Linked DNA regions of Homo sapiens: all the other regions are reported to be linked to region 4. The links are microRNA targets in miRTarBase. Many come from high-throughput screens and were not tested one by one. Region 4 holds a microRNA gene; each other region holds the end of a gene's coding sequence.
What was found. The annotated mature microRNA hsa-miR-4667-5p reads ACUGGGGAGCAGAAGGAGAACC and lies in region 4 at 1,142-1,163, opposite strand. An mRNA with a match to its seed (bases 2 to 7 or 8) in the 3' UTR can be bound and repressed. Matches are read on the target gene's strand: a 7mer-m8 pairs with bases 2 to 8, a 7mer-A1 pairs with bases 2 to 7 and ends in A, and an 8mer does both.

Region 1: the mRNA of GTPBP2 is a reported target of hsa-miR-4667-5p. Seed matches in the 3' UTR shown: 7mer-m8 at 1,948-1,954.
Region 2: the mRNA of CHD7 is a reported target of hsa-miR-4667-5p. The part of its 3' UTR that is shown has no 7-base or 8-base seed match.
Region 3: the mRNA of CLSTN1 is a reported target of hsa-miR-4667-5p. Seed matches in the 3' UTR shown: 8mer at 1,130-1,137, 7mer-A1 at 1,138-1,144 and 8mer at 1,595-1,602.

What each region holds. Positions count from the first base shown.
Region 1 is chr6:43,619,047-43,622,046 of GRCh38, forward strand. It overlaps GTPBP2 (GTP binding protein 2), which reads right to left. Exons shown (of 12, transcript NM_019096.5): 11 at 2,957-3,000; 12 at 1,448-2,744. The coding sequence ends at 2,568. POLH (DNA polymerase eta) reads left to right here. Exons shown (of 11, transcript NM_006502.3): 11 at 1-1,477. Among named protein-coding and RNA genes, the nearest start is that of GTPBP2, 8.7 kb to the right of the region's middle.
Region 2 is chr8:60,865,761-60,868,760 of GRCh38, reverse strand. It overlaps CHD7 (chromodomain helicase DNA binding protein 7), which reads right to left. Exons shown (of 38, transcript NM_017780.4): 38 at 733-3,000. The coding sequence ends at 2,828. Among named protein-coding and RNA genes, the nearest start is that of CHD7, 190 kb to the right of the region's middle.
Region 3 is chr1:9,728,030-9,731,029 of GRCh38, reverse strand. CLSTN1 (calsyntenin 1) reads left to right here. Exons shown (of 19, transcript NM_001009566.3): 19 at 325-2,104. The coding sequence ends at 522. It overlaps PIK3CD (phosphatidylinositol-4,5-bisphosphate 3-kinase catalytic subunit delta), which reads right to left. Exons shown (of 24, transcript NM_005026.5): 24 at 1,916-3,000. Among named protein-coding and RNA genes, the nearest start is that of PIK3CD-AS2, 42 kb to the right of the region's middle.
Region 4 is chr9:35,606,111-35,609,258 of GRCh38, reverse strand. MIR4667 (microRNA 4667) reads right to left here and starts at 1,165; the gene lies at 1,100-1,165. It overlaps TESK1 (testis associated actin remodelling kinase 1), which reads right to left. Exons shown (of 10, transcript NM_006285.3): 3 at 2,974-3,022; 4 at 2,276-2,422; 5 at 1,850-1,932; 6 at 1,587-1,677; 7 at 1,248-1,331; 8 at 1,010-1,099; 9 at 750-864; 10 at 1-397. RefSeq lists a silencer at 3,132-3,148.

The DNA of each region.
Region 1 (3,000 bases), not on the chromosome of region 4:
TATTTTCTGCTTTTATGATACTTGAATATCTAATAAAAGACAATATTTAGCCAGTCACGGTGGCTGATGCTTGTAATCCTAACACTTTGGGAGGCTGAGGTGGGTGGACTACTGGAGCCCTGGAGTTCAAAACCGGCCTAAGCCACATGGCAAAACAGTCTTTACAAAAAATACAAAGATGGTGGCTTATGCCTGTAGTCGTACCTACTCAGGAGGCTGAGGTTGGGAGGATCACCTGAATCTGGGAGTTTGGGGCTGCAATAAGCCATGATTGTGCCGCTGCACTCCAGCCTGGGTGACAGTCTGAGACCCTGTCTCAAAAAAAAAAAAAAAAAAAAAAAAAAAAAAGACTACATTCACTGTATACGTGGCCTTTTCCCCCTAACTAGCTATGTAGCTTCTTAAAGGCAAAGATTCTTCATAGTGCTTTGCACATGATAGGTGCTGATACTCATTGGATGAATGTATATAGTGAAGAATTTTAGATCTGATTACCACAATTGGGATCATAAACATGTATAAACTCCTTGGGAGTCTGCCTTATATACTTTTTATCCCCCTAAATGTTCCATTAATGTTGCAGAGAGGCTCACTAGTTCCTGGAGATGTCTTATTAAGTACTGAAATGTGATTTTCCAAAATTTTCTTTACAATACAGGCAAAAGATAAGTAAATTGTGGACAAAGCTTTCATCTCTATCAGCAGCTATAGAGAGGAAGTAAACAGCTTAGCCCCTAATACAGGAGGAAGTTGTTCAACTACAGGCTTGTTAGTAGCAAGTTAAACCAGTTACATTTTATAAAACAGCCTGAGTGGTAGGGAAGCTATCACTTTAATACTCTAGAGGCAGAATGCCACATAGGACTTTGGGTCACATATTTCTTTTCCAGGGTCTCCTCAAAATGCAGTTTCTATTTACAGTTGACTTTGGCCCCTATTTACCCATAAAATGTCAAAATCAAGTAGTATGAACATGGAAACAGGAGCAGGGACTAAGGTTTGGTCAAGTGGCCCTCATTGTTCCAAGAGTAATTTAGGCTATGTAAACTTGAAAAATATGGGACCAGATTACCTTTTGTCTCTAAATTCTACTCTTCTTTAAGTAGCTGGCACTGTATCTCTGCCAGGGCACAGAAGTGGGCTCCTTACTATTCTGACCACTAGCAAGTGGCCAACTCTTCAAATACAGGGTAGCTACCTATTTCACGTGAAAGGCCTCAGTATTCTGCTCACTTGAACTACGGAAAATAGGCCACAATACTTGGTTACAATACTGGAACTCTGAACCTATGTGGAGGAGAGAAAAACAATGGTGAACGAGATACCAGCTGGGCTCTTTCCACATTCAGGGCTCAGCAGTGTTGGGGTTTCACTTGTCTCTAATCCTGAAGAGGTATCTAGCCCTGGAAGGAAGCTGAGCCTGTAGCTAACGCATAAGCACAGTGTATTCAATAAAACATTTTTATTCTGTACAATATATATGTGTATTTAAATATATATACATATGTATATATATATATATGCACAGAGAAACCTTAGCCAACAAATCCCTGAGTCCATGGGAACCCAGGACACTAACAAAGGGAAAGGAGAGTCCATGCCTAAAGAGTAGGAAATATGGCAACATCTTTCCCTTTCCTCCTGGTTCCCTGCAACAGAGGGAAGGGAACAGTCACTACAAATTACTAAAACGAGGGTTTAGGTGGGGCAGGAAAGTGGGGTGAGAGTGGTAGGATGGGGAACTCAGATGCCACCAGTCTGGGAAAGTAAAACATTTGATCCAGCATGAAAGCCAACATGACCGCAGAGGAAAAAGACCAGACTGATGGGCATGCAGCTGGCCTTTGGTATATGCCAAGCCTTTGCTTGGTAGCCCCACGCCTGGGCCAGCACAACAAATAGCACCTGTGGGGCCTATAAGCCGGGAGGGGATGGGGGAGATAGGGACTGGGGAAATGGCCCTTGAGTGAAGGAAAGGGAGATAAAGCTGAGGAAGAGGCCTCAGGCCTCAGCACAGGGTGGCAACACTACCATTCACTGTCCCTGTGCCATTTCTTCAGACTCTGGGCCGCCACCACCACCAGATGGCCAAGAGCAGATAACCTTTTGTCCACAGCCAGGTAGAGATGGGCAACTTACATGGCCTTGAGAAGAGGTATAGAAAAAGGAGTGCTTTTGAGGGCTACCCCCTGTTGTGACCATTCCTGAAGTGCAGAGACCACACCAGCAAAACATGCCCAGTCTTAGTAGTGGGGACGAAGAATTGATGAGTGGATCCAGTCAGCTCCGGCAGACAGGCCACAGGGTTGCCAGGTTTGATGAGCCAACCAGGTGAGCACACAGCTTCGGAGCACTGCCCTGAATCCTGTCTTCTCCCTCAGGACTGCCCTTTCCTGGCCACACCAAGTTTGGCACCTCTCCAGAAAGTTGGCAGGGAGCAAGTGGCAGACAGCACCCCTCTCTCCCTAGCCTATTAACACACAGAGCCGCCAATGGCAGGGCAGCATGGCCAGAAGTCACCTTATATATTGTAGGGACAGCAATAGAACTGTCCCTGCCTGAAGGGTTCAGAAGCCCATGTTGGCCTGGGCTTCTCCTGCTGTAATGGCTTGTACATCAGTGACATGGCCGATGCCCTTGGTGACACCCTCCCGGAACAGCAGTTTGGCGCCCACCTTCAGGTACTCTGGGTGTTTCAGGAAGCGGAAACGTACCACTGCCTTCTCGCCTGTCCGCAGTTTGTCCTGCAGCAAATAAGTGGTCACTCCCCTGGCCAGTGCCTTCTGTCCCATTCTCTGCCAGCCGTGGCTCTCCACCCTCCAGAGGCCTATCAGGCCGCTACCCACCCTAAGTGGGGTTTTATTCCCATTGTGGGATCAAGGAGTTCTCTGCCAGTCTGGGGCAGGCCTCCCTCTTTTCTGACCTCTGGAGAAATGGAAGGCCAGGTCCCTCTCACCTTGGCATGGATCTTTTCCACCACTGCCGTCTGACGTACGTTGC
Region 2 (3,000 bases), not on the chromosome of region 4:
GGAAGAACAGAACTTCCATCAGGGAGCAATGCCAGGAGAACCCTTGGCACCTCAGTGCTTCCTCCATGCTAGGCACACGATCATACCCATTAGTATCTGACTGAATTGAAAATACTTTACTCACGCCTGTAATCCCAGCATTTTGGGAGGCAGAGGCAGAGGCAGGTGGATCACAAGCATCAGGAGATCAAGACCATCCTGGCTAACACGATGAAACCCCGTCTCTACTAAAAATACAAAAAAAATTAGCTGGGCGTGGTGGCAGGCGCCTGTAGTCCCAGCTACTAAGGAAGCTGAGGCAGGAGAATGGCGTGAAAGTGGGAGGCGGGGCTTGCAGTGAGCTGAGATTGTGCCACTACACTCCAGCCTGGGAGACAGCGAGACTCCGTCTCAACAACAACAACAAAAAAAAAAAGAAAGAAAGAAAGAAAGAAAATAAAATACTTAGGTAGATTCAAGATCTACTACCAAGAATGAATTTCACTGGAAGAAAAAAAATGCATTTTTCAATATGAAAATGTGAATGACATTAAAGCCACGTCAACAGATGAGTACCGGATGATGCACATAACAAGCCAGTGAGCCCCAACAACTCAGGGGTCCTCTGGCCACGAGCAACTGATGGCTTTGCTTTGAAGATCATCATTGCTCTTAGAATTTTATCCTAACAGTGTCACATTATATTCTCTATTTACAGAGGCTCATAGGAAAATTTCCAATACTACAAAGAACTTTAAAAAAAACACCCTTTAATGACTCATTTTATTAAGCAAATTCTCCCTGCTAACATCTTTGTTACTTAAATACTTAAATTTCCTATACTTCATGCAGACCTAGTTTCACTTTCCCGTGTTCAAATAATTCCCTTTCAAAAAATATTCTCTTCAAGGCACTTTCCTCCAGTGTGCACGGCCCATTCACTTTCAGCAGACAACGACGATGATAAATAAAAGCAATCACAGGATCTGTAAGGTGGAGGGTTCAGGTTGTTTCTTTCCCAGAATCATTAAGGGGCATATTTTCATCTTGGGGCATAAACGAACTGAATCTCACAGTCTGGGAGGAATTTAGACCACCTGTCTGGCAGCACACTGGCTGGAGGTGGACTGTGTGCGGACGTCCTGGGGGAAGGGTGTGGAGGAAGGCAACACACACGAAACACTCTCGTCCACATCCCTTCCCCTGCTTTTTAACTGGATGGAAATATGGCTTTGTGTTGGTTCAGGTGACATAAAAAGGTGAAAACAGTAGATCTCAAATTATATTTTACTTTAAATACCAAAGGTCAAAAAGGGGTCCACAAATCAGTAGCTCCTGAGACCGTGCGTGCGCGCGTGCGTGCTTAAGTGGGTCTGTTTCAATTCCACATGGGTTTTTCCACACACTGGTTTCTGGCATCGAGCGCTGGTCTGCAGGACACCAGAGTGCCTTTGTGTCCCTTGCTGACACTACCGCATTGTGTTTTTCTACCCATTAACCAAGGATAAATGACCTAGATATTGTGCCTGTTAAAGCCTCATTTTTCTTTTGCCCTTTTGTTCTTCAGTGTACCACATTATCACACGCTGCACACATTTCTAAGTATTCTCGGTCTCAGATGCCCTTTTGAGGGAGTAATAGGAGCTTTTTGTATGCATTTCTGTTGAGATATCTGGAGTGGAATTATGTGAGAGTAATTCAAGGTTTTCCTTCCTGTCTAGTCTTCGAGACAGTTTAGTGTCTTACCAAAAGCTAATCTAGTATAAGAGGATATATCAAGAAACTGTACAAAAGCCAGAATGCTGTATTTGCATCTATTGCGAATACAAAAAAAATAGAGTGAACACCAGTTTCCCTATATACTACATTCTATAATTACATCTCTGCATATCATGGGTCACTTTTATTAAAAGCATCATTACTACAGTTGGCAGCAATTTACATTTTATCTTACATGATAGCAGTTTTCAAAGAAAAAAATAAAAGGACATCACAACAAAGAAAAACAATACATTTACAAAGTCATGTCTGTAAACTTCAAGGCTAGTTTAGAGCTGAGGTAATGCTGTTTTAGCTTTGTGGCTAAAGTAACAAAGTCCTTTAATTTAAAAAAGGTACCTGATTCTCTCTTCTCTCACTCTTTATTTATTCATCTATTTATTTTGTTTTTACCAGTGCATTACAAGACCACGAGACAATGGAACTGTAGTTCTGTCTGGCAAGAACCCTCCCAGTAGGTTAATTTTCCAAAGGGACCCTTCACATTCAACAGCTGCCTTATTATTGCTGCGCCTCGGGACAGAGGCGTTCACACTAGCGTGGAGATTGTCAGAGTGTATGGATGTGTGTGTATGCACGAGTGTGGGAACCCCCATACAGTCAAAAAGGGAAACAAATGAGCAAGTATGATATGTATGGTAAATTTCAGCTTGACCTTCACAGCAAAAAAATTAAAAATTAAAATTAAAAAATTAAATATATAACTTCATACTTCCTTTGAGCAGCACTTTCTTCCATTAGTGCCACTCAGTTACAAATTGCTCTTTATTATAATACCAATGGTACCAAGAGAAAAAAAAAAAGCAGAGCATTATGTAAGTTTCCTTAAAAAGACATGATCACCTCTCAAATTTCATCTCTCCTAGGGATAATAAATAATGCACTGCACAATACTTAATGACCAAGATACCTTTTGACACACCTGTATAACATGACTTGAACTTTTTTTTTTGCTACACTATGTTACAGAACAGCTTATAAAACTAGGTATGAACATTAACTGTGAGTGTAAACAGTAGGACTACCACTTGTCAAAAGTTTTAAACACTTGAACTGGAACTGGTACTGGTTATTCATCATTTTCATTGTTTTCTATTTCATCCCCCCCATCAAGTGAGTCTAGCTCTTCACCCTGTGCTATTTCGTCTTCTAAGAGGGAGGACTCTGCAGTCTTATCCAGGCTCTCCTCGGCATCGCTGCCTTCAAGGGTCTCTCCATCTTTAAAGGGTCCTCCCTCAGCCT
Region 3 (3,000 bases), not on the chromosome of region 4:
GGCCGTTCTGCCTTAAGTGTAGAGAAGAGCCATGCCAGGGCTTGGCGCTCTTGGGTCATGGTAATCCTGAGAGAGTTCTCTGGTGGGGCAGCTGAGGTGCTGTCCCAAGCTGCTTTGTATGTGGGTGACTCCGTGGGTGCTGACTGGAGCTTTGTTTTCCCTTCACTTCTAATATAACTTCCGGTGCCGTCCTGGCTGCTCTGTCGCTGGGGAGGGAGACGCTGGGGCAAGTTCTCCTTCCTCTGTGGCTGTCGAGAGGAGAATGCCAGGTGACGGGGCTGTGGGCAGGGCCGGACTCATGTGGCCGTCACTTCTCCTTGCCAGACCTATGAGGACCAGCACAGCAGTGAGGAGGAGGAGGAAGAGGAAGAGGAAGAGGAAAGCGAGGACGGCGAAGAAGAGGATGACATCACCAGCGCCGAGTCGGAGAGCAGCGAGGAGGAGGAGGGGGAGCAGGGCGACCCCCAGAACGCAACCCGGCAGCAGCAGCTGGAGTGGGATGACTCCACCCTCAGCTACTGACCCGTGCCCCCGGCCACCTCGGTTTCTGCTTTCGAAGACTCTGCTGCCATCCGTTCTCCCAGTCCCAAGGGTCCACGATGTACAAAGTCATTTCGGCCAGTAGGTGTGCAGACCCCTCCCCGCCACGATCGTCGCTGTGCTTGGTGTGTAGGACCCTAGGCTCCCCGCCCACCCTCTGCCTGGTCGCGCTCTTCAGTCCCACGAGGAGCTGACACGTCCTCTCTGGCCGCCATCCGGCTCGCACAGGGGCCTCCCAGCGCCTCAGGCCCCGCGTTTGTGTCTGGAGTCTCCCCCCGGGGAGAGGACACTGGCCCCTCGCACTCCAGAAAAGCCATGCCAGCTGGGCTCGTTGACAAAGGGTAAAACATGCTCACTCCCACCCGGTAATCATTTTTTTCTTTTTTTAAAAAAAGTTTTTATTTTTTCCAAACTAGTGCATGTATAAATAATGGCAGGATGGGGGGTACTGTGTAGATGATTAACTGACTTTTTAATATTTTGTAAATAAATCGGATTCCTTGTGTCCTTTGTGCTAGTGTAACCCGGGACTGGAATGTAAAGTGAAGTTCGGAGCTCTGAGCACGGGCTCTTCCCGCCGGGTCCTCCCTCCCCAGACCCCAGAGGGAGAGGCCCACCCCGCCCAGCCCCGCCCCAGCCCCTGCTCAGGTCTGAGTATGGCTGGGAGTCGGGGGCCACAGGCCTCTAGCTGTGCTGCTCAAGAGACTGGATCAGGGTAGCTACAAGTGGCCGGGCCTTGCCTTTGGGATTCTACCTGTTCCTAATTTGGTGTGGGGTGCGGGGTCCCTGGCCCCTTTTCCACACTCCTCCTCCGACAGCAGCTCCCTGGGCAGTGGCCTGGTCTCACCGTGTGCAGCCTTGTGGTTTATGCTTAAATGTACATTTTCCTGCTGGTAAAAGGAGAAACTGAGAGGTGTCCTGCAGACCGGCTGACCACTCCTTTTGGAGACGGCAGGAGGCCTGAGCGATCCGTACTCAGAACGTCCAGGAGAGACGCATGGCCCGAAGTCAAAGTGCTGGAATTTTCCAAAACAGCCTGTTCTCTCCTCTCTCCTCCCCAGAGCACCCCCTGCCATCAGGGGGGTTGAAATCCCTCTCCCCCAGGAGCCCTGCTGCTTTGCTTGGTGGTAGGGCAGGAGAGCAAACAAACAGTCATGGTCTAAAACCCACATAGCACTTTGCTCTTAGTTACATGTAAAATTTTAGATTTCTAAAACAGGTGGGCAATCATTTTGAATACTGTTCTGTGACCCTGACTGCTAGTTCTGAGGACACTGGTGGCTGTGCTATGTGTGGCCATCCTCCATGTCCCGTCCCTGTAGCTGCTCTGTTTAGACAGCGGACAGACGCTCACGCCCAGGGGATGTCCTCACGCTGTCGCCGCGCGGTTTCCCTTCGCAGATGTGTATACTCATGATAGGTCAGAAAGTGTATCCGCTACAATAAAGTTCTGGTTCTAACTAACTCCAGCCGGAGCGGGGTTTGTCTTCTCTCCTGTTTTGGTTTTAAACCTACACTCCCTTGTTTCTTTTTGAGCCGAGAACATAAAAGAACATAAAAAGGCTTTTTCTTTCTTTTCATCTGCCTTTACTTCTCATTTCAAGGTTTCACAGAGTGCTGGTCTCAACCCACATCAGTGATACTTAACTAACTTGCCTTCCCCAGACAGAAACATGAAATGACTTAAAAAAATAGAAAATATTCTTCTCGCCAGGCACACAAGACTGTACACCCAAAACCAGAAACGCTGTGGCTTTGCAAAGTGTGCTCCCACACCCGCGCACACAGGCGCACTTAAATAAATAACGCGCACGCACGGCTTTCCCCATTTCGAAACAGGCAGACGGTCTAGTGAGTTTCAGCACTTGCTGGGAACAGGCGTGTGGCCAGGGAGGTGCCCCGCGGGTGGCAATGACTACTGACGGACCCCTGGTGAATCAGAACAGAGCTGGCACCTGAGCCGCTGAGCGGGCGGCTACTTCTGGCTCTGTTGAGTTTTGGAAGACCTTTGAGAAATCAACAGCATCACCGGGCAGGTCCTGAGTCCATGGCCTGATATGTTAGGATCACCTGTGGGCTGCTAAAAGCCCACAGTCCTAGCCCCATCTGCAGAGTTAGTTGGCTTCTGAAGGCTGGGAGAAGCCCTAGAACCTGCATTTCTAAAGCTGCTCAAATCCAGGCCTTTGGAGGCTTAAGACTAAGCCTGCACCATTTCAAACTAAGTATAGTCAGAGAGAAAGATCCCAGCACGCCCCCTCGTTCTCACACTTCTGGTACCTCAGCACTCTCACAGCAGGTTCCCAAAGGTGATGGTTCTGGAAGAGTTCTGGCCTCATCCTTTTGTTAAAACCTGCTTTCAGAGGTGGCTTAGACAATGGCAGAGTGGGCCGGGCGCGGTGGCTCATGCCTGTAATCCCAGCACTTTGGGAGGCTCAGGCGGGTGGATCACCTGAGGTCAGG
Region 4 (3,148 bases):
TCTTCAGCCGAGGGGCCCACAGCGGGAGGGCCAGGACCTGGCAGTGCTGTCTCCATACGGCGGGGGAGCTCGGGGGATGAGGGTAGTGAGCGGCAGCGGCGGGCAGGTGTCCCAGGCTGGACCAGGGTCTCCGGAGTGGTCACCAAGGGCAGCTGAGTGGATGGGAATGGTGATGGTGGCACAAGAGGCAGGACTGGCTTGCTGGGTGTGTCTAAGAGCTTGATCTTGCCACCCCTGAGGTCTTCCCGTAGTGAGAAGGGGTTGACTCGAGTCAGATTGTCCCCCCAGTTGGGGGGTGATTCTGGTGATGGGGGCAGGAAGAGGTCTGACCGGCTTCGGGAAAGCCGGGGATCTGGCCTGGGAAGCGTGGCAGAGGGACCCCCTCTTGCAACAGAGCCTGTAGATAGAGAAGTCTGGAATCACTGTCCTCAGCATTTGATCACAGCTCCTTGAGGGCCTCACTATTCTCCAGGAGGCTGGTGGGACTAGAGCTTGAAAAAGGGAGTCCCACCTGGTGCTTTGGAAAGGGGTGATGTCATCTCCAGGCCCCTTTTACTTCTTTCCCCTCCTCTCCCTCAAGCTTTAGCATTAGGAAACTGTCTTCTTGGAGATGTCCTCCCACCCTACCCCAGCCCGACCCCCAGCCTTTTCAACTAATAAATATACTTAGCCTCCCCCATGTCACCTCTGAATTCTAGGGAGGACAAAGGCCAAAGGACTCAAGCTGGATCAAGGTCAGGCTCCCTTACCCTGATTGTGTGTCAGGGCGGTCCTGGTGAGTGGGGCTGGCTCAGGCAGCTGCTCCAGGATCCATTCCAGGTGCTGGGTAATTTCGGTGAAGGGGGCACGGGTGCTGGGTTCCAGCTGATGGGTAGAGACAGGAACGGCTTCACTCAGTGCTCCGAAAGAGGGTCTCTGAGTTTCCTCCCATCACCTGGGTCCCACAGGGCAGCCATGGCAGCTTACGGATGGGGGCAGGGTGGGGCAGGAAGGAGTGTGAGGCTCTTACGTTGCAGCAGTGGATGGCCAGGAGCAAGAAAGGCAGTGGGCAGTCATCCCCCACCAGAGTTCGGAAAGCAGGCACATCCAGGCCAAAGTCCTGTGGGGACAGAAGGAGGGACCTCCAAGTCAGCTTTTCTTGGGTTCTCCTTCTGCTCCCCAGTCAGAACCTCAACCTCTAGGGAATCCTCCTTGGTTATGAGCCAGCTAGTCTGGAATTCTTTCTTTGCAAACCTAGAAACATTCACCTCAGTGCGTGGTAGGTAGTCAGGGTCTGCAGGTACTCGGGCGATGAGCTCACAGAGGACAATCCCGAAGGCAAAGACATCAGCCTGGGGGTCAGAGATAATAGTGTCGGGGAAGAATTAACAGTTTTCATTTCAGAATTTTGACAGAATATAGCAGAATTTGGTTGAGGGTGGGGGATCTTGACAGTTTTCATGTGTTAGAAGGGTGCCTGTGAGGGGCAAAGGGATCTTGGGGACTCCTGAAGATCTGGTAGGGTTGTTTTGGGGATGGATGGGGCTTTATGAGAATACCTCAAGGGTCTCGGAAGGCCTTGGGGATCTGAAGGGTTGATGTCTCACCTTCTCATCATACAGCTCACCCCGTAACACCTCTGGAGCCATCCAGTATGGGGAGCCCACCACGGCCAATGGCTCCTTCCTTGCCCCCTCCCTGCAGGGGCAGGGGCAGAGTGGTCAGAAGCATCCTATTCAGGCATCCCCCCCAGGCAAAAGGGGATGAGGTGAACTCCCTCCGTTCCCCAAGGGAAACATCCCTGGGGCTCTGGGGACATCAGATAGGGGCACTCTGGGAGATTTGGGGGGAACAGGGACATTCATCTCACCTATACACAGGAATCTTTTCGGCCAGCCCGAAGTCACCCACGACAGCGGTGAAGCCTCGATCTTCCCGTCGGACTAGACAGTTCTGACACACACACACATAGTATCCCCACGCACTCATCACCTTCTGCTGTCTGGCCTCCCAATGTATAACCCAAAGCCCTGTCACTCCAGCATAACTCCAACCCTCTCTGCTCTCCCAGTTTTTCAAGGCACTTCAATATTGCAACATCATCCAACACTCCAAACACAGGGTGCTACTCAGTCCCTCCGAGCACTCCCCTCACCCTGGTCCCCCAATATTCTCCAATGCCTTGCCACTCCAACATCCTAATATATCTGTTATCCATATTCCAACATCCACAGGCCAGTTACAACCTAATAGCCTCAAACCCTCTTTCATGTCTCCACCCACCCTGCTAGCCTACCTTGGATGTGAGGTCGCGGTGAAATACACCTTTGGAGTGCAGGTACCGCAGGCCTCGGGCAATGTCCAGGGCCAGGTGGAGCCTGACCGGCCAGGACAGGGGTTCAGGGGAGCTGAGCAGCTGTTCCAATGTCCCCCCATTCATATACTGGTGCATAGGAGGAGAATGGGAATAGATGTCAGACTTCAGTCTGTATTCTAGGTCCCCCACTTACACGCTAGGGGACACTCCCGAGGATCACAGAGGTCATAGGGGTAAGACTGTGCTGTAGGACCCCCCCCATCCATGTTCTAGGATTGCCCCGTTCAACTCAATAGCCATTAGCCATGTGCAACAATTTAAATAATTTAAAAAATTTTTTAATCAAGTTGACCCACAAAAAATAATCTAAACAATGAAAATAATTTAAATTTAACCACATGTGGCTAGTGGCTACTGTATTGGACAGCACAGATAGAGAACATTTCCGTCACTGAAGAAAATTCTATTGGACAGCACTGTTCTAGGGGATACAGAGAATAAGACCAGTTGAGGCCTTTTATATGTGGTTTGCCTAAAGGAAAGTTCAGGAAAGCCTCCCCTGAGAGGAGATCCTGTTGCCTCTCACTAGTCCTCCGTAGATCCACCAGGCCTGTTGACTCCCTTTATCCTTGGGGGTGAAGGGGGGTGGGGATCCCTCCTTCCTGGCCTATCCTCACCTCTGTAAGAGCGTGCAGCTGTCCCTGGTGCACACAGACTCCCATGAACCTGCAAGAGGATGGGGAAGATAGAAGGATAGGCTATTAAAGGCCTCAGCTCCTCCTCAGTTCCACTTTTCCCGCGGGATCTTTCCCTTTCTCTCCCGCCCAGCAAGCTGCCCAGAGACTGGGGCCG